Linked DNA regions of Homo sapiens. The protein of the gene in region 1 interacts with the protein of each later gene in a pairwise test. Each region holds a gene or a part of one and is shown in the gene's direction. Other genes may lie near its edges.

Evidence for each region.
Region 2: the proteins of SUFU (region 1) and BFSP2 interact in binary tests that used the Homo sapiens proteins (3 or more experiments, as listed by UniProt).
Region 3: the proteins of SUFU (region 1) and LCA5 interact in binary tests that used the Homo sapiens proteins (3 or more experiments, as listed by UniProt).
Region 4: the proteins of SUFU (region 1) and ZNF747 interact in binary tests that used the Homo sapiens proteins (3 or more experiments, as listed by UniProt).
Region 5: the proteins of SUFU (region 1) and CRX interact in binary tests that used the Homo sapiens proteins (3 or more experiments, as listed by UniProt).
Region 6: the proteins of SUFU (region 1) and STK36 interact in binary tests that used the Homo sapiens proteins (3 or more experiments, as listed by UniProt).
Region 7: the proteins of SUFU (region 1) and RCN3 interact in binary tests that used the Homo sapiens proteins (3 or more experiments, as listed by UniProt).

Annotation. Positions count from the first base shown.
Region 1 is NC_000010.11:102,506,668-102,510,618, forward strand, and holds part of SUFU (suppressor of fused homolog), read left to right. Parts: intron 1-1,611; exon of another isoform or gene 1,612-2,239; intron 2,240-2,501; coding exon 2,502-2,636; intron 2,637-3,951. UniProt on the Homo sapiens protein: Negative regulator in the hedgehog/smoothened signaling pathway. Down-regulates GLI1-mediated transactivation of target genes. Down-regulates GLI2-mediated transactivation of target genes. Part of a corepressor complex that acts on DNA-bound GLI1.
Region 2 is NC_000003.12:133,465,656-133,469,606, forward strand, and holds part of BFSP2 (phakinin), read left to right. Parts: intron 1-1,172; coding exon 1,173-1,304; intron 1,305-3,951.
Region 3 is NC_000006.12:79,534,427-79,538,993, reverse strand, and holds the start of LCA5 (lebercilin), read left to right. Parts: upstream 1-1,563; 5' UTR 1,564-1,829; exon of another isoform or gene 1,830-1,878; intron 1,879-4,567. Other genes in the region: SH3BGRL2 (SH3 domain-binding glutamic acid-rich-like protein 2), read right to left, coding at 151-266, 1,110-1,133. UniProt on the Homo sapiens protein: Involved in intraflagellar protein (IFT) transport in photoreceptor cilia.
Region 4 is NC_000016.10:30,531,729-30,536,421, reverse strand, and holds the start of ZNF747 (zinc finger protein 747), read left to right. Parts: upstream 1-1,563; 5' UTR 1,564-1,742; coding exon 1,743-1,971; coding exon of another isoform or gene 1,972-2,111; coding exon 2,112-2,225; intron 2,226-3,270; coding exon 3,271-3,923; 3' UTR 3,924-4,693.
Region 5 is NC_000019.10:47,828,258-47,832,208, forward strand, and holds part of CRX (cone-rod homeobox protein), read left to right. Parts: intron 1-3,951. UniProt on the Homo sapiens protein: Transcription factor that binds and transactivates the sequence 5'-TAATC[CA]-3' which is found upstream of several photoreceptor-specific genes, including the opsin genes.
Region 6 is NC_000002.12:218,674,722-218,678,672, forward strand, and holds part of STK36 (serine/threonine-protein kinase 36), read left to right. Parts: intron 1-621; coding exon 622-752; intron 753-1,307; coding exon 1,308-1,557; intron 1,558-3,951.
Region 7 is NC_000019.10:49,530,715-49,534,665, forward strand, and holds part of RCN3 (reticulocalbin-3 precursor), read left to right. Parts: intron 1-3,478; coding exon 3,479-3,681; intron 3,682-3,951. UniProt on the Homo sapiens protein: Probable molecular chaperone assisting protein biosynthesis and transport in the endoplasmic reticulum.

The DNA of each region.
Region 1 (3,951 bases):
TGCGACCAGCCATCAGTGACTGGTACTTTCTAAGATGTGGAGGGGTTTGCAAAAATAAGATCCTGAAATTCATTTATATTCCTCACATTTGGGATCCCACGAGGTTTCTAGCAGGATGACTGACCCAGGCTGTCTGGGTCTGTCTGTGGCCCAGGGTAGCTTGGGATTCATTTTGCAATAGCAGTGTGGCTCTGTGACTGGTGATCCCTGAGTAGTGGGGACATTCTAACTGAAAGCTGAGACTTTGGTGAGCAAGGATCAAAGCAGAGAGGCAGAACCTGTACTCATGGCCCACTTCAGTCCTGCAACTGCCCTGCAGAGAGAAGTTGGGTGTTCAAGGAATTAAGTTGAGGGATGCCCTGGGACCTTGGATAACATCATTTGCTAAGTGTAAAATGCGATTTTTTTCCACATACTCATCTGGCCTCTGAGTAGTAAGTAAACAGAATACTCTGTGCTTGGGGACAGGGTTAATTTTATCTGACTCTTGGTAGTTCCTTGCAGTTGGAGTTTGAAGGTTAAGCTTCTCTCCTTGATGTGACACCTTGTGGGAGACTTGGTGAGAAAGAGGGCTGCAGGGATGCTGCAGATGGAGCAGAGAATGGTAAACACAGTTTTGCAGCTTGGTGCAGGATGGACCTAGGCTGTAGCGGGGCAGGTTTGGAAATTTGCAGCAGGAAACTGGAGCAGGTATGGGGCCTGTAGTGGCTCTCATCTGCTCTGGAGTTCTGTAGCTCTAATGGGGTCTTTCCAGGGATCTCTACTCTTTTCTTTCTTCCCTTGCCCCACAAACTTTTCTAAATCCAACCTGTTGTAGAATTAGTCAAGTGATTTGTTGAAATCAGTTAAGGCAGACATGGAGAGTTGTCCCTCTTCCTCTGTTGAGATGCTAAGCTATTTGTAGCAACTTTCTTAAAAGTTCTATAAATAACTTAGCATTTCCTAACAGAGAATAGGGATTTCTATCCACAAAGGCAAATAATATCCTGGTGAAAGAGGACGAAACAAGACCAACTGGTTTTAAATAGTGTTTAAATTGCCTGGTGCTGGCACCATTGACTGGGATCACTTGTAACATGTCTTTTATTTGGTTGTTAGCTTTCCACCAGCATGCTATCCCAGTTGCAAAGTGTACTCCATCGATGTCCCAGGGGCAGGTGAAGCTTTTGCAGTCTGTGGAATGGTCAGATGTTTGAGGCAGCTCAAATGCCGTGTTTGTGGGCTAAATGCAGACTTCCTTCCACTGATGGTTTCTATTTGGTCTATTTCTCTAGCTACCAAAATTTCTTATCCATTTTTTTTTTTTTTTTTTTTTTTAGACAAAGTCTCACTCTGTCACCCAGGCTGGAGTGCAGTGGCGCAATCTTGGCTCCCTGCAACCTCTGCCTCTGTTGTCCAGGCGATTCTCCTGCCTCAGCCTCTCAAATAGCAAATAGCTGGGATTACAGGCACCTGCCACCACACCTGGCTAATTTTTTGTATCTTTAGTAGAGATGGGGTTTCACCATGTTGGCCAGGCTGGTCTCAAACTCCTGACCTCAAGTAATCCACCCACTTCGGCCTCCCAAAGTGCAGAGATTACAGGTGTGAGCCACCGTGCCCGGCCAAAACAGGATTTTTTTTAAAAAGCACTGATTACTAAAGGGAACTCTTATTGTATTAAATCCTCAGAGTGAGATAATAACTGAATCTCTTCCGCAACTCCTTCTCAGTTGAATGGTGGGGGAAATTTAATGTGGTCCTGAGAGGCCCCAAATCATTTACCATCCCAGCTCTACCTTTGATGTGGCAGTCTCTCCTGGGATCATTTTCTGGGTGCAGATGCTCACAGGGCGCAGTTTGACTCCTTCTGCAGTTCTCTGTGCAGAACTAAGTTAAGCCTAAGTTTGGCCTTTGTCACTTGCAATGATAAGAGACCAGCTTTGGTCTATGGGGTGCAGGCTGGTGTCAGCACAGACTAGAGGCTTTGGGTTTGTTTAGAACAAACTGTAATTAACATAGGGCACAATATAGTCTTTCAGGAATTAGCTGTCTAAGAGGCTGGAGTGGAGCAGAGCCTCTGCTTCCAGGAACAATGCCCATTGGGGATGCTTGGGATGGTCTTTCAACAGAGGCCAATTGATTGACTGATGTACCTCTTGCCTTGAAGCTTGGCATGTATACAGGCACCACAGAAGAGAGACAATCCCTGCCAATCTCATTTGGGATCGGTAATTTGAAACAGGAGAAAGCAAAATGGGTAACCATCCAGTCTGTTTTATTTCTAAAAGAGGCCCAGTCTTTCAGGGGTAGGAGAAGGGAGCCTCTTGGGCTTGCAGAGTTGGGCAGCCTTAGCTGTCCATCCCTTAGTCTCATTCTGGAGAGATGTGGCCTCTGTTTAGTTACCTTTCACCCAGGTTCCTCCAGGATGGGTCCTTTAGGTTTACAAAGTAGAGCGCCTTAGCTTGACATTGTCTGATTTCCAGGCTTACACTAACACCCCTGTGTTTTGTTTTTTGCAGGTTGGGTGGCCCAGACCCCTTGGACTATGTTAGCATGTACAGGAATGTGGGGAGCCCTTCTGCTAACATCCCCGAGCACTGGCACTACATCAGCTTCGGCCTGAGTGATCTCTATGGTGACAACAGAGTCCATGAGTGAGTATATGCCACCTGTTCTTTATCCAGAGCCTTATTCCTGAGGTCTTCCTGAGCAGGGGTGACAATGTCATAGTGCTGTGAGCATGGTACTTCTCCGTGGAACCTCTGCATTTCTGCCCTCTGACTATATCTACTCATGCCAAGGTGGTCCTCGTTAACACCTGATTCCTGCTTATCTAGTGCAGGAAAGTCTTGATGAGCAGGATTCCCAAATCAGGTTTTTCTAAGCTTGCCCTGGAGTTTGGGCTCATAGGACAGGAAGGTAGCATGGTTATGACTCAGAACTTGGGCTGATGCCTCTGTGTCTACTTCCTTTTATTCCCCTAGCTTATTATGAAACATTTTAAACATAAAGCAAAGTTGGAAGGATTTTATAGTGAACACTCATATACCCACAACCCAGATTCTACTGTTAACTTTATACTTGCTTTATCACAAATCTGTTCATCTCTTATCCTTTATCTATCTTACCTACTTCCTTTTAACCTGTATTTATTTATTTTTTTATCTTAGTCTGCTTCCGTTTGTTGCCCTATATGCTTTTTTTTGGAGATAGGGTCTCACTCTGTCATCCAGGCTAGAGTGCAGTGGTATGATCATGGTTCACTGCAGCCTCGACCTCCCTAGGCTCAGGTGATCCTCCAACCTCAGCCTCCCGAGTAGCTGGGACGACAGGCAAGCACCACCATGCCCAGCTAATTTTTGTAATTTTTTTGTAGAGACAGGGTTTCACCATGTTGCCCAGGCTGGTCTCAAACTCCTGGGCTTAAGCAGTTCTTCCACCTCAGCTTCCCAAAGTGTCGGGATTATGGGTGTGAGCCACTGTGCCCAACTCAGAGTTCATACTGTTAATGACTGTATTCTCTTGCCTTTTGAGCAATTATATCATGTACTCCAATAAGCTACCAACTATTTTTTTTAGAAACAGAGTCTCGCTTTGTTGCCCAGGCTGGAGTGCAGTGGGGTGATCTTGGCTCACTGCAAGCTCCACCTGCCGGGTTCACGCCATTCTCCTGTCTCAGCCTCCTGAGTACCTGGGACTATAGGCACCCACCACCACGCCCAGCTAATTTTTGTATTTTTAGTAGAGACGGGGTTTCACCATGTTAGCCAGGATGGTCTTGATCTCCTGACCTCGTGATCTGCCTGCCTCGGCCTCCCAAAGTGCTGGGATTACAGGCGTGACGACTGTGCCCGGCCTGCTACCATCTATATTTTAAAAAGATTTTTTTTGGCTGGGCACAGTGGCTCATGCCTGTAATCCCAGCACTTTGTGGGGCTGAGGCAGGTGGCTCACTTGAGGTCAGGAGTT
Region 2 (3,951 bases), on another chromosome or scaffold:
CACAAGGAAACAGGCACTATCAGATTGACAGAGATCAAGTTGGATAACTCCTGGTTTGAGGGCGGTATGGGACAACTGGCACTGTCTTACAATGCTGAAATGGATTTCAAGTTTTCCGAAGGGAAATTTGCCACTATTCACCAAAATTAAAAATATATACCCTTTCTAATCAGCAGTTCTACTACAAGAACTACTTTCTCAAAGACATGCTCTTGTATGAAAAATAAGGGATCAAAGCTTTTTCTTTGCACCATTGTTTGTAATAGAGAAAGAAAGACTAGAAACAATCTGAGTGTCCACCAGCAGAGACTTCTAAATACATTGCAGCCCTTCCAAACAAGACAACACTGTGCAGCCGCTATAAAGAATGTACTCAATTTCTATTAGGTTGGTGCAAAATTAATTGCTGTCTCTGCCATTGAAAGTAGTGGCGAAAACTGCAATCGCCTTTGCACCAACCTAATATGTACTGATATAGAATAATTTCTAAGATACTTTAAGTACCAAAGCACGGGGGGGGCAATACATATTTATTTATAAATATATAAACTATTTCTGGAAAGAGGAATAAGAAACTAGAAACAAGAGAACTGGATAATTAAGACACAGGAGAAAATGAGACTTTATAGTCTGTAGGAAATCTTTTGAATTGTATTTCATTTGCAGGCATCGTATGTTCAAAATAAATACATTTTTGTATACAAGTTGGTGAAGGGACCTGTTTAAAAAAAAAGACATTTCCAGCCAGGCGTGGTGGCTCACGCCTGTAATCCTAGCACTTTGGGAGGCCAAGGCATGCGGATTACCTGAGGTCAGGAGTTCAAGACCAGCCTGACCAACATGGTGAAACCCCATCTCTACTAAAAATACAAAAAAAATTAGCCAGGCCTGGTGGCGGGTACCTGTAATCCCAGCTACTCGAGGCAGGAGAATCGCTTGAACCCAGGAGGAGGAAGTTGTGGTGAGCTGAGATCGCACCACTGCACTCCAGCCTGGGCTACAGAGCGAGACTTCATCTCAACAAAAAAAAAAAAAAAAAAAAGATGTTTCCACGTGACAGCTGTATTTCCTCTGGTTAGAGGCAGTGGAGTGGTGATTAGAAAGGCTGGGAAGGAAGGATGGGCTCAGATTTCTGATCATCACCGCTCACACTGAGACCTGACTCTCCACAGCAACAGGCGGAGGTGGCCCACATGTCCCAGACCCAGGAGGAGAAGCTGGCAGCTGCCCTCAGGGTGGAGTTACACAACACTTCGTGCCAAGTCCAGAGCCTCCAGGCTGAGACAGAATCCTTACGTGCCCTGGTAAGTGGGCCAAGGAAAGACCTGGTGTCCTTGTGCTAATTTTAACTCTCTACTGTCAAATTCCAGTATTATGGATCTTAGTTTCCAGGGGATTCCCATCTCACAGCATATGAGTTTTGAGGCCTGAAATGTCTTCTGACTCCCAAGGATCATCAGATACTGAATCACAGCAGGTGCAATAGACACTGTAGTGCCCCACGGAAATATCTCTTACCAGGCTGCTGCAGTAAATGTTGACTGTTAACATCTGCAGCCGCCCCTTTTCAGCTGCCCCACTGCTCCAGAGACCTGCCCTTACCCACACTGAGGACACCTGGCCCAGAAGGTTAGGCCCTGCCCCCCAAGGCTCAGCCAGTGACTAAGAGGGGGCTTTAAAATTAAAAGCCCAGCCCTTTTGCTTCAACATGGAGCTAGCTCCATGCTATAGAGCTCTCCATAGGACCAGGCTGTAGCCAGATTCCAGAGACCACATCCTCGCTTAGTGCCTTCCTCTGCCCTGTCCTGCTTTCCTCACTCCCCCTTTTCCTGAGAGTACTCCTTAATGATTTGCGAGTTCCAGGATCCCTAACTCAGGCTCTGCTTCTGGAGAACCCAACCTGAGACATCTAGTAAGCTCTCAGACTCACTGGGATTTGCAAGCTCGTCTCTTTCATTATTAATTATTTATTAAAATATTAAAATAATAAAATGTATTAATAATGAAGCAATCCACCCTCTGATCTCTGGAATGGATTGAAGTTCTATTTGGGTATTAAACATCTTTTCTTAGATGTCCCCTCCAGGAGGTCATTTGCATTGTTCTAACTACAGCTTCGTTGGTGCAAATCAAAGGTTGGTCCATGTAATCCTTGTGCAGCTGAGATGGCCTGGAGTCAATGAGGCGCATGATAGGATGTAGGTCCGTGCAAGCATGTATAAGAAAAGGATCTGAGGATCTGAGGGGAGGAAAATCAAGAGTAATAGAGTCAGAAGGGCTCAGCTCCTCCATTTATCCCTTGGGTAAAGAGGCAAATCCCTGAACCACAGTTTCCTCTTCTGCAAAATGGGTATGATAGTCACAGTCCAGCCCACTTCTCAGTGTTTCTAGGGGGATCCAATGTGTGGATGCACATGAGCATGCTCTTCTGACTCTTAGCATTATTTTGAGAACTTGCTATGTTCCTAGAACTGTACCAAGTGCTTTGGAGACATAAAACTAATGAGATATGGTCCCTGCCTCCAAAGAGTTAATGTGGCTTCGGTGGAGGAGCTGATACAAATGTGAGGGAGGGGCAGATGGGAGAGAGCACCCCTGCTGTGGGAGTCAGGAGGTAGACTTCGTGGTGGGTGCTCTCCTCACTCACTAGCTATGTGAATGAACAGCTTTCATTTTCTCACTTGTAAAGTGAGGATCTATTTTGGCTATCATATCTAGTTACTGTCTTAGTAGCTTAAGACAACAGTGAATCACTTGTTCTCTCATTCTGTGATTTAGGCAGAATTCAGCAGGGATAACTCTTCTCTGTATCATGTGGCCTCTGCTGGGGCTGGAACACCCAAAAATGGCTTCTTCATTTAGCTTCTCTGGTGACTCAATTGTGCATCTCTTTTTCTCTCTCCCTGTGACCACTCCGTGTAGCTAGCTTAGACCTCCTCATATCATGACAGCCTGACATAGTCAAACTTCTGATATAGCACCTGAGTGAGCACAGAAGCTACCAGGCCTCTTAACACCTGGGCTCGAAAGTCTCTGGACATCACTTATACCACATTCTAGTGGTCAAAGCAGTCACAAGACTATCCTAGATTCAACAGGGAGAGAAATAAATTCAACTTCTTGATGAGACAATGGCAAGGTCACATTGAGAAAGCGATTGTGGAGTGGAGATAATTGTTGTAGCTGCCAATGCAAGTGTGAGCCACTTTAGGATCGTAATAGAATTTACCTCATAACGTCATTGAGATGATTAATTTGATAATGTATGTCAAGCCCTTAGCACAGTGCCTGGCAGTTAGTGAGCAGTCAATAAATGCCATCTATTATTAATTATCATATAAAATTGCTATAATAGCTACTAGTACAGTAACTCCAAGTTGGCATCACCAGCCACCTGGTCACCTCACTTAAACCCAGGGTCCTAACCATTGGGGAAAAAAATGGAAAAATAATTTACACTCTCAACCAGAAAACTTCAGAGTAGTGCCATTCTGTCTATGCCCATAGCCCAGAACAGGCTGCCTCTGTTCCCTGCTGGTTCTAGTAGATTATCGTTCTGGTCACGGGGCCTTGCAGCCAAGGTGAGGAGCACAGATTGGGACAAAATAGGTAACAAACTCTCATACAGTTTTCAGATACAGGAAGTTCATCCAGCCATTCCTGTTATTCTGTCAGAGCGATCTGTGCACACACAAGGCCCCCGCAGCTTATATAAGCTTCAGACAGCCAAGCTGGCGAGACTTTCGGCCCCCTTTGCCAATAAGGCACTATTTGCATTGGAAGCTAGGCACAAATAATGGTGCTTGAGACCTGCTGAACTCTGTGTCCAGTCAACTCAAATCAGGAATGGAATTCAAGGCCAGAAGTCACAGAAGGTCACTATTTTACTTTCTGGAGGATTTTGCAATCCCAGAAAGTCCCTTCAAATCTCCAGAGACCTGCAGAATAAGT
Region 3 (4,567 bases), on another chromosome or scaffold:
CAATGAAGGCACTAAATCCGAAACCACGAAATTTGGAAGCAGACCTAGGCTTGTACTCTGGCATTACTACTTACTACTTTCGTACCTTGTGGTAGATACTTTAACTTCTCTGAATCTGCTTTCTCAAGTATAAACAATGAATAACAATACCTGTCTGGAGTCATGAATGAAGATGGAATGAGATTACACTGCCTGGAGCATTCTGAGTGCTGAATAAATGGTGGTTTCATTCTCAGCTCTCCTTCAGCAATCCTGATCTGACGCTCCTGTGACAGACATTTGTCCACGTAAATACGGTATGTTTTCTGATTCTTCCTAGCAACTTCCTTTATAAGTAATCCACCCATACATTTACATGTTAATTCTAACAGAGTCCATAATAACGAGTGAGCTATTTTAACAGTGTCAGCAGAGACAGATTAAAGAATTGATGAAAAGTAATTCCGTGCAATTTAGGGATTACTCATCTTATTTTCACTAACAGATGACTGCCATCTTGTACAGATGTATTTCGCATACAGAAAATTACATTTAATCACAATATTGTTTGGGTGGGTTAGTCTGTAACTTGAAGTAAAATGTATTGACAGGATAAAATGAAAGCTTTGAAACAGTGCAAAGGTGGAAAAACGAGGTTGAGCGAGAAGCAGGAATTACCAATCTTCATGGTTAGAAGATTCATTAAACGCATTTGCCTTCAAATATTAGATTCTCTACAGAATGGTGGTAAAAAGGCCAGTGAGAAATTAACAATAGTGAGAACACCAGAGTAGTGTTAAACCACCTTGATAATCAGATGGCTCGGAGCAGTTTAAAGCCCTCACGAAAGAGGATTTTTTTTTACCTTCCCTGTCTCCCGCAATTAATGCCATTTCTAAAAGAGAAAATATGTCACACATCAGCGCTCAATAGGCTGACATGCTCCTCAAAACGTTCCTTAAAAAAAAAAAAAAAAAAAAAAAAAAAAAAAAAAAACTTGTGTGCAAATATTTCAGATGCCATTCCACCCCAAACCCGTTCCAAAACCTAAAAATCACTTTCAAGCCAAACTCACGGCTCGTTGGTGATTCACAGCCAGGATCTCGAGGCAGGAACAATAGTGCACTCACCCCGCATCCTCCTGAATCAGCCATTTCGGTAAGAAGATCCAGAAGCACTAGCAGTTTGTTTGTAATTTGTTTACAATTTAAAAGCAAGTTATTTCCCAAAGGAAATCTAAGCAATTGTTAAGTGTTTTACATTACGCAGTCGCCAATTTTACAATTCATATCATGAACCCACTTTGCCCTCCGCCCGCGTCCCTCTCGGAGCCCACGACGCTCAGCAGTCGAGCCCTGGCACCGCACAGCCCGTAGGAGCCTGGAGCGCTCCGCGTTTTGCCCCAATTTCCCTACTTGGGGGTCTCCGCTACAGCTAGAGCGGTCGGCCAATGGAGACCTTCTCCCGCACTCGCCGTCCCGCCTTCCAGTTCCACTGAAGCCAATAAAAAGGGCCGTCTGGAGACAGAAGCCAATGGGAGCTCGGGTAGAGTCATCATGATTGGCTGCGGTCTCTTCGTAGTGCAGTCTAGGCCTCCGCCTCCGTTACCCTGGAGCCCAGGTTACCGCCGCTGCCACCCAGGAGCCCCGATCCTCGCCTCTGTCCCATCCTTGTGTTCAAACCTCCCGCATCTCGGCAACCTCGGCACCCGCCCGGCAGCCTCCGCAGGAACCAGGCACCCGCTCTTTGGCGGTCAGACGCCGAGGCCCCAGCTGGGAGTTTGGTCCTAAGAGGGAAGGCAAGGAGGCGGGACGCCGCATCGGCTCTGCTGAAGAGCCTGCGGGTTGGAGGTGGGCTTTGAAGTGGGCGTGGAGACGGCGGGGGAGGTGGAGGTGCGAGGTGAGGCTGGGTTGAAGCGTCTGGTAGCTAGTGAAGGGGCGTTCGTGGATGGGGGCCTGCGGGTGGTTCTTAAAGCAGGGAAGATGAAGGGATTAGGGATGGGGGAGGATGTAGGGACCGCGAGGAGAAGGAAGACCTAGGAAAATGAGTAAAGAGCTCGGCTTCTGAGAGGGTCCCGAGGAAGGGAGGTTGACCGGCACTGGGGGGACTGGGAAGTTAGGAGGAGAGGAGCTGGGAAAGGGTATTTACTTCCTGGGACCGAGAAGAGAAGAAAGGGAGCAAGCGGATCTAGAGAAGTGGTTGTTATTAAAACAAACAAAACAAAAACCCCGGAGGCCCGTGGAGACTCAAGACTAGAGAGGAGGGGCAGGGCCAAGGGCCAAGACGGAAAAGGAGGCTTTGGTAGCTCTCGGATAATAATAGATGTGTTATTATTAAAACTGTGGTTAGAGTGGAAAGCCGTACTTGTCCAGGCTGTGATACTTCTATACATCCTTCAGGGATGGGATGAGAGGAGTAAAGATGGTTAGAAATAAAAGAAAAAAGAAAGTGCCTTTTTGGCATACTCGAGTTGGAGTCGGTACTCAGATACGTGATGTTTACGTTAGATAGACCGTGGGATAGTGTTTAACAGTGAAGAGCCCTGGTCCAGTTCATCTGATATAAACCCCTTTTTTGTTCACTTTGTTCTTTGGAAAGTATACTTGGGCACATACATATTTATTCCCCTCCTTTATCTTCACGTTAAGAACTTGCATTAGAGATATCTTTGCAATCAGAAGTCATCATTTAGTTTTTGGCAGAGGGAGTGGCTATATGTGTTTTAGAATGGTAAAACCGATGTTTCCAGTTCTTTACTCATTCCCTCTTTCTTTTGCATGGTTATTTTAATCTATGTTTTTTTCCAGTTGTTCCACATTTAAATTCTATATTACCATTTTAAATATTTCACTTTGTGATTTCCCATGTTAGCTAGTATGTTTATCCAAATAAGTTATAGGAAATAATAGTTTGTTTTGATTCTCTAAGTTGACAAAGTATCATTTTAAATATCAAAAAGTAGTTTGTGACTTTGGAAAAGAGATTTTTCTTCTTTTGTGAGTCACATCTCTTCCGTTACACATATTGTGGAACTATAATTCTGTAGGACACAATGGAAGCCCATTAAATAAAGATGCTACCCTTCTCTTGGGTTCTTCATCTGCCTGTCATTCTTCAACTCCTTTGTGGGATCTTCTTCCTCGGCCCACCATATTTCATTATTGTTTTTCCCAATAATCCAGTCTTCAGTCTTCCGTCTTCTATTTTTTACTCTGTGTTCTTGGCTGTGTTCTTCCTCTCCTTTGGCTTACACTATTTGTGTTTTATTAACACTCTCCCAATTTTTTATTTCTGATCTGGAACTTTTGAGTTACTGTCAAACTTTTGTAGCTAATTTTTGGTATTTCCACATAAATTTCCTATCCATAGGCATCCCAAACTCAGTATGTCCAATATTGAACCCATCACCTTTCCCTGCCAAAGCTGTCCTGCTTGAATACCACATTCTCCTAATTTTGCAAGCCCAAAACTTTGGAATTTACTCAAGTTCTTCTCTATTCTCAGACTTCATATTTAATCTGTCACCAAGTGTAGTTTATCTTACTTGAAAAACATTTCTGGAATCAGTTCCGTACTCTGTATCTCTAGTTATACTACTTTCAAAACACTGTCTGTCAGTGATTATCGAGACCAATTGATATTCTTCCTCCAGCTTTCCTGCCCTCCAATTCTTAGATTGGAGATGGATCCTTGCAAATGTCAGATCTGATAATATTAACCCTACTGAAGAGCCTTGGTTTCCAACCAACTTATTAATGACATAGAGATTCTTCTTGTGATATTATCTTCCACCCGATCCAGTCCCACTTATTATTACTTTAGCACTACTCCCCAGCCAGTGCCATCCTTTTAAACTAGCATTGTCCATTTGAAATAGAATGTGAGCTATATCCATTTTTTTCAGTAGACACACAATAAAATACAGGTGAAATTTTAATGTATTTTTAAGTCACATATATCCAGAATATTATTTTAGCATATGTCAATGTAAGAAAGATTATAGAAGAGCTATTTTATGGTCTGTTTTATGTACTAAGTTTTCAAAATTCCACATGTATTTTACACTTGCCGCATATGCCAATTCTGAATAGCTACATTTGAGGTGCTCAGGAGCCACTGTATTGGACAGCACAGTTGTAAAGTATTTGCAGTTTGGTGATATGCCATGCTTATCTAATGCCTTTTACTTTTGCAAATGCTGCATCCTCTTATTGAGACAGGGTCGTACTTCACTGTCTTCTTTTTCTAACCTCATTTACCCCCCCACTTTTCAAACACACACATCCATGAAATTATAATTGTGCTTAACCTCTGCTAATACCGTAAGACTCAATTTAGGCATTATCTCCTCTAGAAACCTTCTCAAACTCCCTCTGTCCTCTAATCTTAGTTCTGAGTTTACTAAGCTTTCTCTGCTTCCTTTTATCATTAGTACTTATAGACTGTCGCATTATTTTTTTTTCCTCTTGGTTGGGAATTACTTAACGGTAAAGGATCAGTTGTATTTTACTCATTTTTGTATCTTCAGCTCCATCTATAATCTAGCGCCTGACATTTCATAGGTGTTCAGTAAATGTCTTATAAATGA
Region 4 (4,693 bases), on another chromosome or scaffold:
AAAAAAAAAAAGAAAAGAAATATAAAAGCACCTGGCTTCAGCCACTTTTTCTGACTGCTCTCTCTTGTGAAGATGCCTGAGTACATGTAAAACAGGTACAATTTGTATTCTTTCCTCCTGTTAGTCTGTCTGCTGTCGATTCATTTTTTCTTATTTATTTTTGAGATAGGGTCTCCTAAGTTGAGCAGGCTGATCTCATTCTCTTGGACTCAAGGAATCCTCTTGCCCCGACCTCCCAGGCGCCAGGATTACAGGCGATTCTCAATCTGGGCCTAGATTCAACTAAAGAACCCACTAAGAGCTAAAAGGCGCGTTGGAGGTGACTCTGACTCCAGTACACAGGACATGTATGAAGTCACGTGGAGCACAGAGTAGGCCATCAGGAAGTGTGAGAAGGAGGTCTCAGGGGAGAGCTGGCGACTTTTACTGAGATAAAGACCCCAGGGGAAGCAGGTTGGGGTAAGAAAGGGATGAGCTGGGTTTGAGCCTAGGAGCCTTGGGCCATCCGCGCAGGGGCAGGACGTCAGGGAAGCCAAGAGCCTGGCTGCAGCTAGAGGGAGACAGGCGGTCGGGAGGCGTCCTGCACAGCACATGGGAGAAGCTCCTAGAAGAGAGGGCCCTCTGACTTTCTCAGCCTTACCCTATTCTCCCCGCTGCTTCCGCCATCTAGAAGCTCCCAGAATTTCAAGCTCCAAAAAGCCTACAATAGAGGAGGTTCTCCTGTATCCACTCCATGGCTTTTGTGAAAGGAAAATAAATCTTGGGACCCCCCCAAATCACTACGCTAAAGGAAAAAGTCAAGCTGGGAATTGCTTAGGGCCAACCTGCCTCCCAGTCTATTCAAAGTCACCCCTTTGCTGGCTGACACAGATGCATATCTGATTGCCTCCTTTGGAAACGCTAATCAGAATCTCAAAAGAATGCAACCGTTTGTGCCTCACCTTCTGTTTCTTGGAAGCCCCCTTCCTGCTTCACGTCTTCCTGCCTTTGCTTCAAGTTGCCCCGCCTTTCCAAACAGAACCAATGTACTTCTTACATACATTTATTGATGTCTCATGTCTCCATAAAATGTATAAAACTAAGCTATGCCCAGACCACCTTGGGCACATGTCGTGAGGACTTCCTGAGGCTGTCACGCGCGCGTCCTCAACCTTGGCAAGTAATTGAGATCTGTCTCGGAATTTCTGGGTTCACACTTTTTGCTCTCAACATTGGGAAGAGGCTGCTGTCGCCGTTTCTGAGGACAAAACGAGACAGTGATGGGCTGAAGTCCGATTATAAAAAGGTCCAGAGACGAAAACTAACTTCTGAGTTCACGAGGGCTGCCTTCCGCAGGGCGCTGCTTTGTTCCCGCAAACCCGGGCGGAAGCTCTGAGCTGCGCCGCCTCACCTGGCGGGGCCGGAGCATGCGCGGCTGGTTTTCAAGGCCGGCGCCTGTAGCCGCAACGGCCATTTTGGATTAGGGCAAGGAGAGAACTGGGCCTGGAGCGGGGGCGCGGGGAGGGGGGCGTCGTCGTGGGTACAATTGCGCAGGGGCAAAGGTCGAGAGGTCGCGCTGCCGCCGTTTTATTTGAAGACATCGTCCAGTTCTGACCATGGACTCGCAGCCATCGGCCCTTAGTTTCCATCCCCTCTAGTGGGCCTTCGGGGGCTCTACTGACGTCCCTCCTTCCCTTGGTACCGGGCCGGGGAAGTGTTCTCGGGCGCGGGAGGTTCCGCATGCCCAGGCCTGGCCAGGGGAGATGACCGATCCGTCGCTGGGGCTGACAGTCCCCATGGCGCCGCCTCTGGCCCCGCTCCCTCCCCGGGACCCAAACGGGGCGGGATCCGAGTGGAGAAAGCCCGGGGCCGTGAGCTTCGCCGACGTGGCCGTGTACTTCTCCCGGGAGGAGTGGGGCTGCCTGCGGCCCGCGCAGAGGGCCCTGTACCGGGACGTGATGCGGGAGACCTACGGCCACCTGGGCGCGCTCGGTGAGAGCCCCACCTGCTTGCCTGGGCCCTGCGCCTCCACAGGCCCTGCCGCGCCTCTGGGAGCTGCGTGTGGAGTTGGGGGCCCCGGGGCCGGGCAGGCGGCCTCCTCGCAGCGTGGGGTTTGCGTTCTTCTCCCCCAGGAGTCGGAGGCAGCAAGCCGGCGCTCATCTCCTGGGTGGAGGAGAAGGCCGAACTGTGGGATCCGGCTGCCCAGGATCCGGAGGTGGCGAAGTGTCCGACAGAAGCGGACCCAGGTGGAGTATCGGGTGCTCAGTCCCATGGGGACTTCTCTGTTCCTGTCCCATCCCGGTACCCTCTGCCACCTCCAGCTACCTGCTTAGCAGTTTCCTCTCTGAACTGCCTCCTCAACTGCGGCCAGGAGGCTGAGCCCCTGCCTGGCTCCGGGATGCAGCCTAGAAAGGGGCTGTGATGGGGGCTCTGGCCCTGCCATACCCGCCCCTGAGTCCTCACCTCTGCGTGGTCACTACACTCCGGGGACTTTTTTGTTTTGTTTTGTTTTAGAGACAGGGTCTCTGTTGCCCAGGCTGAGGTGCAGTGGCGCCATCATAGCTCACTGCAGTCTTGAACTCCCGGGCTCAAGCAATCGGCTCAACCAATCCTCCCGCGTGGGCCTCCAGAGTACCTAACACTGTAAAGGCACTCGCCACCACGCCTGGCTGGTTTTTTTTTTTTTTTTTTAATTAAAAAAATTTTAAAGAGGTAGAGGTCTTGGTGTGTTGCCCGAGCTGGTCTCGAACTCTAGCGATCCTCTATCTCGGCCTCCCAAAGCACTGGGATTACAGGCATGAGCCACTGCACCCGGCCTCTAGGTTCTGTTGACTCTACCTCCACATCATGACCCGCTCCAGTCGTTTTCCTGCACTATGGTTCCTATGCCCCCACATCCCGCCCTCCCATTTCCTTCCTTTAGTTCTTGCCTCAGCTTTTGCAGAGTATCCAGCCCCACTGAACTTGGCCATGCCCTCCTGGTTCTGCCTTTCTTGGTGCTGTTCCTTCTGCCTGGAATATCCCCAGGTGTCCGCTTCTTATTCCAGATCAGGCCCAGATGTTCACGTCATCTCTGCCCTTCCCCCGCGGTGACATTTCCCCAGCCCGGAGGCGGAATGGACTGTTCCCTCCCTCCAGGCTCTGTCTGGCTCTGCAGCCGAGGAACAGGTGTCACTCCTCCATCTCCTAGGAGCAGTCGGGGGTCCAGCAGGCCTGTCCCTGTCCACGCGGGCTGTGGGATTCAATGACCAGGATGAGCCAAGCCTGAACTCTCGCCTCCTTATCTTTCAGCAGATTCCAGAAACAAGGAAGAGGAAAGACAAAGGGAAGGGACGGGAGCCCTGGAGAAGCCCGACCCTGTGGCCGCCGGGTCTCCTGGGCTGAAGGCTCCCCAAGCCCCCTTTGCCGGGTTGGAGCAGCTGTCCAAGGCCCGGCGCCGGAGTCGCCCCCGCTTTTTTGCCCACCCCCCTGTCCCCCGAGCTGACCAGCGTCACGGCTGCTACGTGTGCGGGAAGAGCTTCGCCTGGCGCTCCACACTGGTGGAGCACATTTACAGCCACAGGGGCGAGAAGCCCTTCCACTGCGCAGACTGCGGCAAGGGCTTCGGCCACGCTTCCTCCCTGAGCAAACACCGGGCCATCCATCGTGGGGAGCGGCCCCACCGCTGTCCCGAGTGTGGTCGGGCCTTCATGCGCCGCACGGCGCTGACTTCTCACCTGCGCGTTCACACTGGCGAGAAGCCCTACCGCTGCCCGCAGTGTGGCCGCTGCTTCGGCCTGAAGACCGGCATGGCCAAGCACCAATGGGTCCATCGGCCCGGGGGCGAGGGGCGTAGGGGCCGGCGCCCTGGGGGGCTGTCTGTGACCCTGACTCCTGTCCGCGGGGACCTGGACCCGCCTGTGGGCTTCCAGCTGTATCCAGAGATATTCCAGGAATGTGGGTGACGGCCTAAAAAGTGACCATCTAGACATTGTGGGCGGCCCGAGATGGGCTCAGGGGCCCGAACCTCTGCAGCGGCCTGCAGGGAGGTCCCAGAATCCACCGCAAGAGCTGGCCTGGGGTGCGGACAGTCTGATCTTGGGCTCTCAGCAGCCTCTTCTGCCAGCACCTTGCTCCCCGCTGCCCTGGGCTCTCCAAGGCCCCCTTTGCTGAGGCAGGGCTGAGGTGAGAACCCCCCAGACCTCCATACAGGGAAGCAAAAGCTGTTTCTCCTCCCAGAGATGCTAAGAGGATTGAGGTAGAGAAGAACCTTGTTTTCTCTGTTGTCTTTTTCTTTTTACTTTTTTAATTTTTTGAGACGGAGTTTTGCTCTTGTTGCCCAGGCTGGAGTGCAATGGTGCGATCTCGACTCACTGCAACTTCCACCTCCTGGAGTCAAGCGATTCTCCTGCCTCAGCCACCCAAGTAGCTGGAATTACAGGCACCTGCCACTATGCCCGGCTAACTTTTTGTATTTTTAGTAGAGATGGGGTTTCACCATGTTGGCTAGGCTGGTCTCGAACTCCTGCCCTCAGGTGATCCACCCACCTCTGCCTCCCAAAGTGCTGGGATTACAGGCGTGAGCCACCTCACCTGGCCTTTTCTTTTTTATTCTTTGACCTTCCCACAAGACAATACCCATTGTCTGTTTTTTTTGTTTATTTATTTACTTATTAAGACAGCATCTTGCTCCTCACCCAGGCTGGAATGCAGTGGTGTGAACTGGGCTCACTGC
Region 5 (3,951 bases), on another chromosome or scaffold:
CCTATATTCCTAGTTCCTAGAGCAGGGAAGGCATTCAAAAAATATTTACTGAATGAACAGTAGAATCTCAACTTAAAATAAACAGAATCTGTCCCCCTCCTCATGTGAGGGATGAGAAGGAAAGGACAGTGAGAGGAACGGAAGAGTGGGAGCTCACAATAAACACCATCCATTTTTAATTCTTTTTCTTATGTTTCAAATATTTATTGGGGGTGCTGGGGACATGGCAGGAACCGAGATATTACCAGTCCCTGAACTCAGGTAACTGATAGAATTTGAGGGAGAGAGATAGATAAACAAACATATAAATATGTCGTTTAATACAAGCTGTGTCTTGAAGAAAAGGAGGTAGGGAGCGTGTGTGTGTGTGTGTAAAATCCAGTTTAGGGGCGTAGGTTGCTTTCTCTGGGGAAAGTAGCTGAGCTGAGACGTGGAGGAGAAGGGGTTAGCTGGTGAGAGGGGCTTTGGGGTGGGGGAGAGGCGTTCCTAGCCCAGGAAACGGCTTATGCAAATAGCTGTGGAGGGTGAGAGGTTTTCTGAGTCCATCCTAATGAGGGCAATGAGGAACCCTCAGAGGGTTTTCATGTTCTGTTTGCTTTTTTGAAGATTTTATTGTTGTTTTTGCTTTTGACAAGAACACACACACACACACACACACACACACACACACACACACACACACACAATTAAAAAGTAATCCAAACTATAGAGACAAGATATGGCTTTAGCATTCCTTCCCAGAGGCAGTCACTGGTGCCAGTAGCTTGCTTCCTTCCTGGGAATTTTCTACGCATATACAAGTGTATATTCTACACATGAGTAAAATCAATGCCTCATTTTGTTTATTAATTCATAATTATAATACTTATTATTTTTGAGATGGAGTCTCACTCTGCCTCCCAGGCTGGAGTGCACTGGCATAATCTCGGCTCACTGCAACCTCCACCTCCCAGGTTCCAGAGGGTCTCCTGCCTCCGCTTCCCAAGTAGCTGGGATTACAGGCATGCACCACCATGCCTGGCTAATTTTTGTATTTTTATTTTATTGTATTTTTATTTTTAAATTTACTTTATTATTATGACTCTTTTTTTGAGATGGAGTTTCGCTCTTGTTGCCCAGGCTGGAGTGCAATGGCGTGATCTCGGCTCACTGCAACCTCTGCCTCCCGGGTTCAAGTGATTCTCCTGCCTCAGCCTCTGGAGTAGCTGGGATTACAGGCGCCCACCACCACGCCTGCCTAATTTTGTATTTTTAGTAGAGACAGGGTTTTGCCATGTTGGCCAGGCTGGTCTTGAACTCTTGACCTCAGGTGATCCATCTGCCTCGGCCTCCCAAAGTGCTGGCATTACAGGCGTGAGCAACTGCACCTGGCCTATTTATTGTTATTATTGAGACAAGGTCTTCCTCTATTGCCTAGGCTGGTGTGCGGTGGCATGCTCATAGCTCACTGCAGTCTCCAAATCCTGGGCTCCAGTGATCCTCCTGCCTCAGCCTCCTGAGTAGCTGAGACTACAGGTGCGGACCACCATGCCTGACCAATTTTTGTATTTTTTTTTTTGTGGAGACAGCGTTTTGCCATGTTACCCAGGCTGGTCTCGAACTCCTGGGCTCAAGCAATCTGCCCACCTTGACCTCCCAAAGTGCTGAGATTATAGGTGTGAGACACAGCACCTGGCCATCTGCATTGTTTTAAAAATCACAAATGGTTGCGAGGTATACATACTGCCCAGCACCATACTTGTTTCCTTTGAATATATAAATATTATAATTTTATAATATTTATAATATATAATAACACAAATAATAATAAATATATATGGTTTGGTCATATACAATATATAAAATAACATTCACAAACACTTATTGTCAAAGTGCAATTAAATGGGAAAAAAAGAAAAACATTTGGCCAGGTGTGGTGGCTCATGTCTGTAGTCCTAGCACTTTGGGAGGCTGAGGTGGGAAGATCACTTGAGCCCAGGAGTTGGAGGCTGCAGTGAGCTATGGCAACGCCGCTGCACTCCGGCCTGGATGACAGAGGGAGACCTTGTCTCTTAAAAAACCCCAAAAAACAAATCTGATTCTCTGACGCATATATAATAAGCACAGGTCAAAGATTTATTTAAGTCATGAATGAAGGAACCAGCTGTTTCAAAGGAGAATTTGGGCCGGGTGCAGTGGCTCACGCCTGTAATCCCAGCACTTTGGGAGGCTGAGGTGGGTGGATCACGAGGTCAAGAGATTGAGACCATCCTGGCCAACATGGTGAAACCCCGACTCTACTAAAAATACAAAAATTAGCTGGGCGTGGTGGCGGGTGCCTGAGGTCAGGAGTTCGAGACCAGCTTGGCTAACAATGGTGAAACCTTGTCTTTACTAAGAATACAAAAAATTAGCTGGGTGTGGTGGCTCATGCCTGTAATCCCAGCTACTTGGGAAGCTGAGGCAGGAGAATAACTTGAACCCAGGAGGTGGAGTTTGCAGCAAGCCGAGATTGTGCCACTGCACTCCAGCCTGGGCGACAGAACAAGACTCCATTAAAAAAAAAAAAAAGGAGAATTTGATGAACAGAAGTTGATAGGTTTAGTCAGGAAAGACGGGCTGGAGAAAATTTGCCAGGTTAGATACAAAACTGGTTAAAGACCTACAGGACAATACAACTGTAACCTTTGAGGTTACCTTTTCTACCAGAGAGAAATCATTTGCAACCAAACTTCCTGGGGTTACCATTTACCTTGTCGAAGTCTAGACTCTAATCAATAATGAATAACAGACCGGGTGTAGTGGCTGACGCCTGTAATCCCAGCACTTTGGGAAGCCGAGGCAGGCGGATCACGAGGTCAGGAGTTCGAGACCAGCCTGGCCAACATGGTGAAACCCCGTCTCTACTAAAAATACAAAAATTAGCCGGGCATGGTGGCGCATGCCTGTAATCCCAGCTCCTCAGGAGGCTGAGGCAGGAGAATCGCTTGAACCCAGGAGGCAGAAGTTGCAGTGAGCCGAGATCGCGCCACTGCACTTTAGCCTGGGCGACAGAGCAAGACTCTGTCTCAAAAAAAAAAAAAAAAAAAAAGAATAGTAAATCAAATACAGGTACAGTCCCTTAGAATAGGGTCCCCAACCCCCGGTTTGTAGTCTGTTAGGCATGGGGTTGCACAGCTGGTGAGCAAGCATTACTGCCTGAGCCCCGCCTCCTGTCAGATCAGCGGTGGCTCTAGACTCTCACAGGAACGTGAACCCTATTGTGAACTGCACGTGCGAGAGATCTAGGTTGTACACTCCTTATGAAAATCTAAGGCACTGCCCACTCCCATCCATGGAAAAATTATCTTCTACGAAACCAGTTTTTGGTGCCAAAAAGGTTGAGGACTGCTGCCTTGGAATATGAAGCAAACTTTGGGTGGGTCTGTTAGACAAGACTCCCAGATGACTTGGAAATGGCATGCTGTCAGCTTTTTTTGTCTTATTGCCGAGCCTAGAACTTTTTTTAATTTTTATTTTTTTTGAGATGAAGTCTTGCTCTTGTCTCCCAGGCTGGAGTGCAGTGGCACGATCTGGGCTCACTGCAACCTCTGCCTCCCGGGCTCAAGCGATTCTCCTGCCTCAGCCTCCAGAGTAGCTGGGATTACAGGCGCCTGCCACCACGCCCGGATAATTTTTGTATTTTAGTTGAGACGTTTCACCATGTTGGCCAGGCTGGTCTCGAACTCCCGACCTCAGGTGATCCGCCTGCTTTGGCCTCCCAAAGTGCTGGGATTGCAGATGTGAGCCACCACACCTGGCCCCTAGAACAATTTTTTAAAACTATATAATGGAGATCTTTTAAAATCAGTTCAGAGAGCAGCCTTATGTTTTTTTTTTTTTTTTTTGAGACGGAGTCTCGCTCTGTCGCCCAAGCTGGAGTGCAGTGGCTTGATCTTGGCTCATTGCAACTTCTGCCTCCCGGGTTCAAGC
Region 6 (3,951 bases), on another chromosome or scaffold:
CTCCCCAGTAACCAGGATTATAGCATGCGCCACCATGCCTAGCTAATTTTGTACTTTTAGTAGAGATGGGGTTTCACCATGCTGGCCAGGCTGGTCTCGAACTGCTGGCCTCAGGTGATCTGCCCGCCTCAGCCTCCCAAAGTGCTGGTATTACAGGTGTGAGCCACCACGCCCGACCACCATATTTGTTTTATCTGTCTTGTTTGTTTGTCTGACTACTTTTCTTGAAAAAAGGCATTTTGTCTTATTTAATAACAGGTAATGTGTATTGAATATTTACTATGTGCCAGGCACCATTCTGAGTATTATTTTGCATGCTTTAACTCAGTCCTCACAATAATCCTCCATGTAGATGGTGTTATTATATAGATTGTCACCTTAGTTTGCCCATGGTCAAGCAGATAGTAAATGAGATTCAATAAATTTTTCTTGAATGAATGAATGAGCAAATGAAAGAGTGATTAAACAAGGGGAACAATAACTAAGAAAGAATAGTGTGAAGCTCTGCAAGAAAGGGAAGGAAGAAAAGATTAGCAGTAATATTAAGAGAAATTTTTGGGCTTGTCAGCCAGCTGCTGTTTCTAACCTTTTTTTTCTTTCTTCCACCTCTTTAATTTCTAGGTTCAGGCCATTGCTGCCCAGTTGGTGTCAGCCCTGTACTATCTGCATTCCCACCGCATCCTACACCGAGATATGAAGCCTCAGAACATCCTCCTCGCCAAGGGTGGTGGCATCAAGCTCTGTGACTTTGGGTAAAGATTCTGAGCATCCATCTAAGCTTCCAGTTCCACACGGAATCTTTTTTTTTTTTTTTTTTTTTGAGATGGAGTTTCACTCTTGTTACCCAGGCTGAAGTGCAATGGTGCGATCTCCACTCACCACAACCTCTGCCTCCCGGATTCAAGCAATTCTACTGCCTCAGCCTCCAGAGTAGCTGGGATTACAGGCATGTGCCACCATGCCTGGCTAATTTTATATTTTTAGTAGAGATGGGGTTTCTCCATGTTGGTCAGGCTGGTCTCGAACTCCTGACCTCAGGTGATCTGCCCACCTCGGCCTCCCAAAGTGCTGGGATTACAGGCATGAGCCACTGAGCCTGGCCCCACAGGGAATCTTAGACCATACTCTTGACTTATTTGGGCCTCATTTTAGAACCGGAGCTAGAGGCTGGGACTGCTGCTGGGTCTTCTGGAACCTAATCAAAGGTGCTCCCTCTGCTCCGGTTTGGGATATCTCTATGTTAGGTAGTAGTGACCAGGTTTAGAATATCTTTTCCCTTTCCATTTCCATCCCATTATCTTCTGCAGATTTGCCCGGGCTATGAGCACCAATACAATGGTGCTGACATCCATCAAAGGCACACCACTCTATATGTCTCCAGAGCTGGTGGAGGAGCGACCATACGACCACACAGCGGACCTCTGGTCTGTTGGCTGCATACTATATGAACTGGCAGTAGGCACCCCTCCCTTCTATGCTACAAGCATCTTTCAGCTGGTCAGCCTCATTCTCAAGGACCCTGTGCGCTGGCCCTCAACCATCAGTCCCTGCTTTAAGGTAATGAATATTGAAAGGGAGATGACTTTTACATTAGAAATCTGTCTCCCTCTATCTCTGTTCCTTTTTCCAAATCCTTTTCCAGAGCTGAGGCGGGACTTTGCAGTTACTGAATTAATGGCTGTGTTATTCTGTTCTCGCATTGCTATACAGAACCACCTGAGACTGGGTATTTTATAAAGAAAAGAGGTTTAATTGGCTCACAGCTCCATAGCCTGTACAGGAAGGATGGCTGGGGAAGCCTCAGGAAACTTACAATCATGACGGAAAGCAAAGGGGAAACAGGCATGTCTTACGTGGTGGACCAGGAGGAAGATAGAGAAAGGAAAGGTGCTACACGCTTTTTTTTTTTTTTTGAGACACAGTTTTTTTTTCTTTTTTTTTTTTTGAGACAGAGTCTCGCTCTGTCACCCAGGCTGGAGTGTAGTGGCGTGATCTTGGCTCACTGCAAGCTCTGCCTTGCAGGTTCACACCATTCTCCTGCCTCAGCCTCCTGAGTAGCTGGGATTACAGGTGCCCACCACGACACCCGGCTAATTTTTTTGTATTTTTTAGTAGAGACGGGGTTTCACCGTGTTAGCCAGCATGGTCTTGATCTCCTGACCTCGTGACTCGCCTGCCTCAGCCTCCCAAAGTGCTGGGATTACAGGCATGAGCCACTGCTCCCAGCCTGAGACAGAGTTTTGCTTTTGTTGTCCAGGCTGGACTGCAATGGCGCGATCTCGGCTGACCGCAACCTCTGCTTCCCAGGTTCAAGCAATTCTTCTGCCTCAGCCTCCCGAGTAGCTGGGATTACAGGCATGCACCACCATGCCTGGCTAATTTTGTATTTTTAGTAGAGATGAGGTTTCTCCATGTTGGTCAGGCTGGTCTCGAACTCCCAACCTCAGGTGATCCGCCTGCCTTGGCCTCCCAAAGTGCTGGGATCATAGGCTTGAGCCACTGCACCCGGCCAGGGCTACACACTTTTAAACAGCCAGATCTCGTGAAAATTCATTCACTATCATGAGAACAGCAAGGGGGAAGTCCTCCCCCATGATCCAGTCACCTCCTACCAGACCCCTCCTCCAACATTGGGTATTACAATTCGACATGAGATTTGGACGGGGACACAAATCCAAACCATATCAATGCCAGAGCTGGGCCAGGCAGCCTTGCTTTTCTACTGCAGGGTCTTAATTCTGGGAGGGTGTTCTAAAGTTTGCCAAACCTGAGAATGGTAACTCCAGTTTGAGCCAGGCTATGCTTTATCACAATGAAAAGGTAATTGGAAGATACTAGAGATCGATACTGGTCCTCTTACATGCCATCTATTCCACTTACTTCCTGTCAGATGCTATGTCCACATTCTAGATGTTATCTACATAGCTTTCAGTCCAAAGCTATCAGAATGGTGAGAGCTGGTGGAGCTGGTTCAGTGATTAGGGGCAGATGATAGAGGTGGTGCCTACTCATTGTGACTAAGTCAGTAGTCTGGAGGAGGGAAGAGTAGAAGAGGAGTTGGACTTCTTTTCTATTTCTTTTTTCTTTGAGATGGAGTCTTACTCTGTCACCCAGGCTGGAGTGCAGTGGCACGATCTCGGCTCACTGCAAGCTCCGCCCTCCAGATTCACACCATTCTCCTGCCTCAGCCTCCTGAGTAGCTGGGACTACAGGTGCCCACCACCACACCTGGCTAATTTTTTGTAATTTTTAGTAGAGACGGGGTTTCACCGTGTTAGCCAGGATGGTCTCAATCTCCCAACCTCGCGATCTGCCCACCTTGGCCTCCCAAAGTGCTGGGATTACAGGCGTGAGCCACTGCTCCTGGCCTCTATTTCTTTTTTAATTAATTAAATTTTTTTTAAAATTTTTTAGAGACAGGGTCTCACTGTGTTGCCCAGGCTTGTCTCAAACTCCTGGCCTCAAGCAATCTTCCTGTCTCAACTCCTAAAGAGTTAGGATTACAAGCATGAGCCACTGCACCCAACCTTCTTTTATTTTTTATGTAGGGCAAGATTATGGATTTTCAATAGAATTTAAATGCAGTCTTCTCCCAGAGTGAAACCTTATTGTAGCTTTGCTTTATCTGAGATGAAAAGGGACAACAAATTCCTCCCCTGTTTAGTTGAGGGGGCCCGAATAATTGTCAAGAATAATCTAAATGAAGGAATCTTAAGTGGAAGCGGTGCACATAGGATATTCATTCTCCCTATGGGCAGATACTCAGGTATCTCCAGCAAGATCCATAGTTATACAGCTCACTTTGTTTTAGAACAGTGGTCATAATCTACTAATACCTCTGTTCCTATTTGAGGCCCAATTGAGGATTTCCCCAAAGATTCCTGATAAGGATAAGGTGTATCCTTTTCAGAGACTGTCTCCCTATCTCTCCACCTCTGAAGACTTGCAGAA
Region 7 (3,951 bases), on another chromosome or scaffold:
CGACCTCCTGACCTCAGGTGATCTGCCCACCTCGGCCTCCCGAAGTGCTGGGATTATAGGCATGAGCCACCGCACCCGGCTGGAGCTGCAATTTTAAACAGGGAACTTGGACAAGGCCTCCATGAGAAGGTGGTATGTGGTATTTGAGCCATGTGGGTATCGGAGTGAATAGCATTCCAGGCAGACAGAACAGTTAAGTGCAAAGGCCCTGAGGCAGGAGTGGGCTTGGAGTGTCAGAGCAACAGTTCTGAGGCCCGTGTGGCTGGAACTCAGTGAGAAAGGGGAGAGAGTGGGAGGTGAGGGCAGAGAAGGAGCAAAGGGGTTCAGCATGGTGGTTCATGTGTGTGATCCCAGCACTTTGGGAGGCCAAGGCTGGGGGATCACTTGAGCCCAGGAGTTCAAGACCAGCCTGGGCAACATAGTGATACCCCGCCTCTACAAAACAAATACAAAAATTAGCCCAGCATGGTGGCGTGCTCCTGTAGTCCCAGATACTAGGGAGGCTGAGGAGGGAGGATCACTTGGGCCTGGGAGGTCAAGGCTGCAGTGAGCCAAAATCATGCCGCTGCACTCCAGCCTAAGCAACAGAGCAAGACTTTGTCTCAAAAAGAGAGAGGGCCAGGTGCAGTGGCTCACGCCTGCAATCCCAGCACTTTGGGAGTCCAAAGCGGGCGGATTGCCTGAGACCATGCAAAGGGGGTCAGATCATGCAATGCAAAGCCTTTTAGGCCACGATGAAGATTTAGGCTTTTCTCCAATTGAGAGTAGAACTGAGGGAGGGCATGAGCTGACTTAGGTTTTGAGAGAATCCTGCTGGCTGCGAGGTGGGGAACAGACTGTAGGGAGCAAGAAGCAGGGAGCCCAGTGAGGAAGCGACTGCGATAGTCCAGGTGGAAGACAAGACAAGATGGTGGTCAGATCAGGGTGGAGACAGTGGCAGTGGTCCCCAGGACTGCTGGCTGGGAGATTGTGCTTGGATGGGCATGCATGAAGGAGAAATGGAGGAAGAAGGGCAGTGACAGGTTAGCACATTTAGCTTAGCACTAATGGCAATGCCAGGCATTGTCCTAAGTGCTTTATTATTGTTATTATTATTATTATTTTGAGACGCAGTCTCGCTCTGTCTCCCAGTCTGGAGTGCAGTGGCGTGATCTCGGCTCACTGCAAGCTCCACCTCCCGGGTTCATGCCATTCTCCTGCCTCAGCCTCCCGAGTAGCTGGGACTACAGGCGCCCACCACCACGCCCAGCTAATTTTTTTGTATTTTTAGTAGAGACGGGGTTTCGCCGTGTTAGCCAGGATGGTCTAGATCTGCTGACCTCGTGATCCACCCACCTCGGCCTCCCAAAGCACTGGGATTACAGGCGTGAGCCATGGCGCCTGGCCTTTTTTTTTTTTTTTTTTTTTTTGAGACAGAGTCTCACTCTGTCATCCAGGCTGGAGTGCAACGGCGCGATCTCGGCTCACTGCAAGCTGCGCCTCCCAGGTTCACGCCATTCTCCTGCCTCAGCCTCCCGAGTAGCTGGGACTACAGGCACCTGCCACCACGCCCGGCTAATTTTTTGTATTTTTAGTAGAGACGGGGTTTCACCATGTTAGCCAGGATGGTCTCGATCTCCTGACCTTGTGATCCGCCCTCCTCGGCCTCCAAAGTGTTTTTTGTTTGTTTGTTTGTTTTTGAGACAAGGTCTTACTCTGTTGCCCAGGCTGGAGTGCAGTGGCACGATCTCGGCTCACTGCAACCTACGCCTCCTGGGTTCAAGCAATTCTCCTGCCTCAGCCTCCCGAGTAGTGGATATTACAGGCATCCACCACTGTGCCCGGCTACTTTTTGTATTTTTAGTAGAGACGGTTTCACCATGTTGGCCAGGCTGGTCTGGAACTCCTCACCTCAGGTGATCTGCCCACTTCGGCCTCCCAAAGTGCTGGGATTACAGGCGTGAGCCACCGTGCCCGGCCTATTATTGTTATTATTATTTGAGACGGAGTCTCGCTCTGTTGCCCAGGCTGGAGTGCAGTGGTACTATCTCGGCTCACTGCAACCTCCACCTCCCAGATTCAACCAATTCTCCCGCGTCAGCCTCCAGAGTAGCTGGGATTTCAGGTGCGTGCCACCATGCCCTGCTAATTTTTGTATTTTTAGTAGAGACAAGGTTTCACCATGTGGACCAGGCTGGTCTGGAACGTCTGATCTCAAGTGATTCGCCTGTCTTGGCTTCCCAAAGTGCTGGGATTACAGGCGTGAGCCACCGCGCCTGTCCTGTCCTAAGTGCTTTACATGGCCTAACTCATTTATTCCCCACAACCGCCCTTTTGGGGTAGGTACCGTTTTTTCTTCCTCCGTTTTACAGAGGGGTAACTGAGACACAGAGAGGTTAAGTCACTTGCCCACAGTCACACAGCCAGTAAGAGGAAGTGGCTGGATTTGGACCTAAAATGTCTGGCTGTGGAGCCCAAGCGCTTAACAACACCAGGAACCTCAGAGAAGGGTGTGATTCCGGGGACAGAGTGGGGCCCTAGACAGACTGGAGCAGAGACCGCCTGGTGCGGGAGGTGGGGCGGTGACTCAGGCAGGCCTGGAGAGGGCTCTGCTGTCTCGGATTTTCGACTTTAGGGAGGGGGCCGCGGGGGCCTAGGGACGGTGACAGGGAGGAGGGCTCCAGGTAGTCTCTGTTAATTAGAGATTGGGAGAGGACCGGCCTGGCAAGGCGTCACCAAGGGAGAGGAGAGGGGCCCGAGAGCTGATAGGCGTGGCCCAAGAGAAGGGGAGAGATGGAACCTAAAGTGGCTTGACATGCGACAGGGAGGGGCACAGGAGCCCGGAGGAGCATGGGGAGGGGCAGAGGGAGACTGAGCCCCCGGGGTTGCGGGTGATGGTCCTCAGGCAGTGCCTGATTCAGCCGGGAGCAGGCAGGGGAAAGCCACGGGGCTCAGCACAGGGCAGGGCTGGAGGGAGAGGAGCCTGAAATTGACACGCGCAGCCTGGTAAGGGGGAGGGGCATGGGGCGGGTCGGGGCCTGAGACAGCGGGGGATCGGGGGTGTGGCCGTGGCTGTCTGGGTTCAGAGTCAATCTTGCAACAGGGCCCCCTTGGCAAGGGTCACAGTGCGACGCCGCGCTCCCCTTCACCACCCCAGCTCGGCCCAGCGAGAGGTGCAGCACGTGCAGGCCGAGGGCGGGGCCGGCGCGGAGAGGGTGGCCCTGCATCGTAGTAGGTCCCTCCCCCGCAGTGCTCCCAGCAGGCCCGCTCGTTCTGGAGAAGGGCGTGACTCGACCTGGGGGTGGACCCTAGGCTGAGGGGTAGGGTCCTCCGGTGGGCTTGGTCCCGAAATTGACCCGCGCCCCTCCCCAGTTAGCCCGCGGACCGTGGACTGTATTTTCAGCCCCGGATCCGAAGTGTCCCAGGGGGCGTGGCCCGTGCGAGGGGCGGGGCCTGGGGGCGGGACCAGAGCCTGACGTGTGCCCGCCCCGGCTTCTAGGCGGATCGTGGACCGCATGGACCGCGCGGGGGACGGCGACGGCTGGGTGTCGCTGGCCGAGCTTCGCGCGTGGATCGCGCACACGCAGCAGCGGCACATACGGGACTCGGTGAGCGCGGCCTGGGACACGTACGACACGGACCGCGACGGGCGTGTGGGTTGGGAGGAGCTGCGCAACGCCACCTATGGCCACTACGCGCCCGGTACGCGGCGAGCCCCCGACCCTGCTCCCCATACACCGTGACCCTGACCTTCTGGACCGCCTCATTCTGAGAACCCTGAACCCATTTACCCGGAGTCCCTGGCCCCTAACCAGGCTCTACCCACTTTTAGGAGCCCATAACTGTGAGATCTTCAGTTTCTCACCTCTGGCTTCTCTTTTTTGTTTTTCGTCTGCTTATTTTTCTGGTATTTAGCTGCATGCTAAAAACGATCTTTTTTTCAAACATGAAGTCACAATTAGGTGCTAAAAG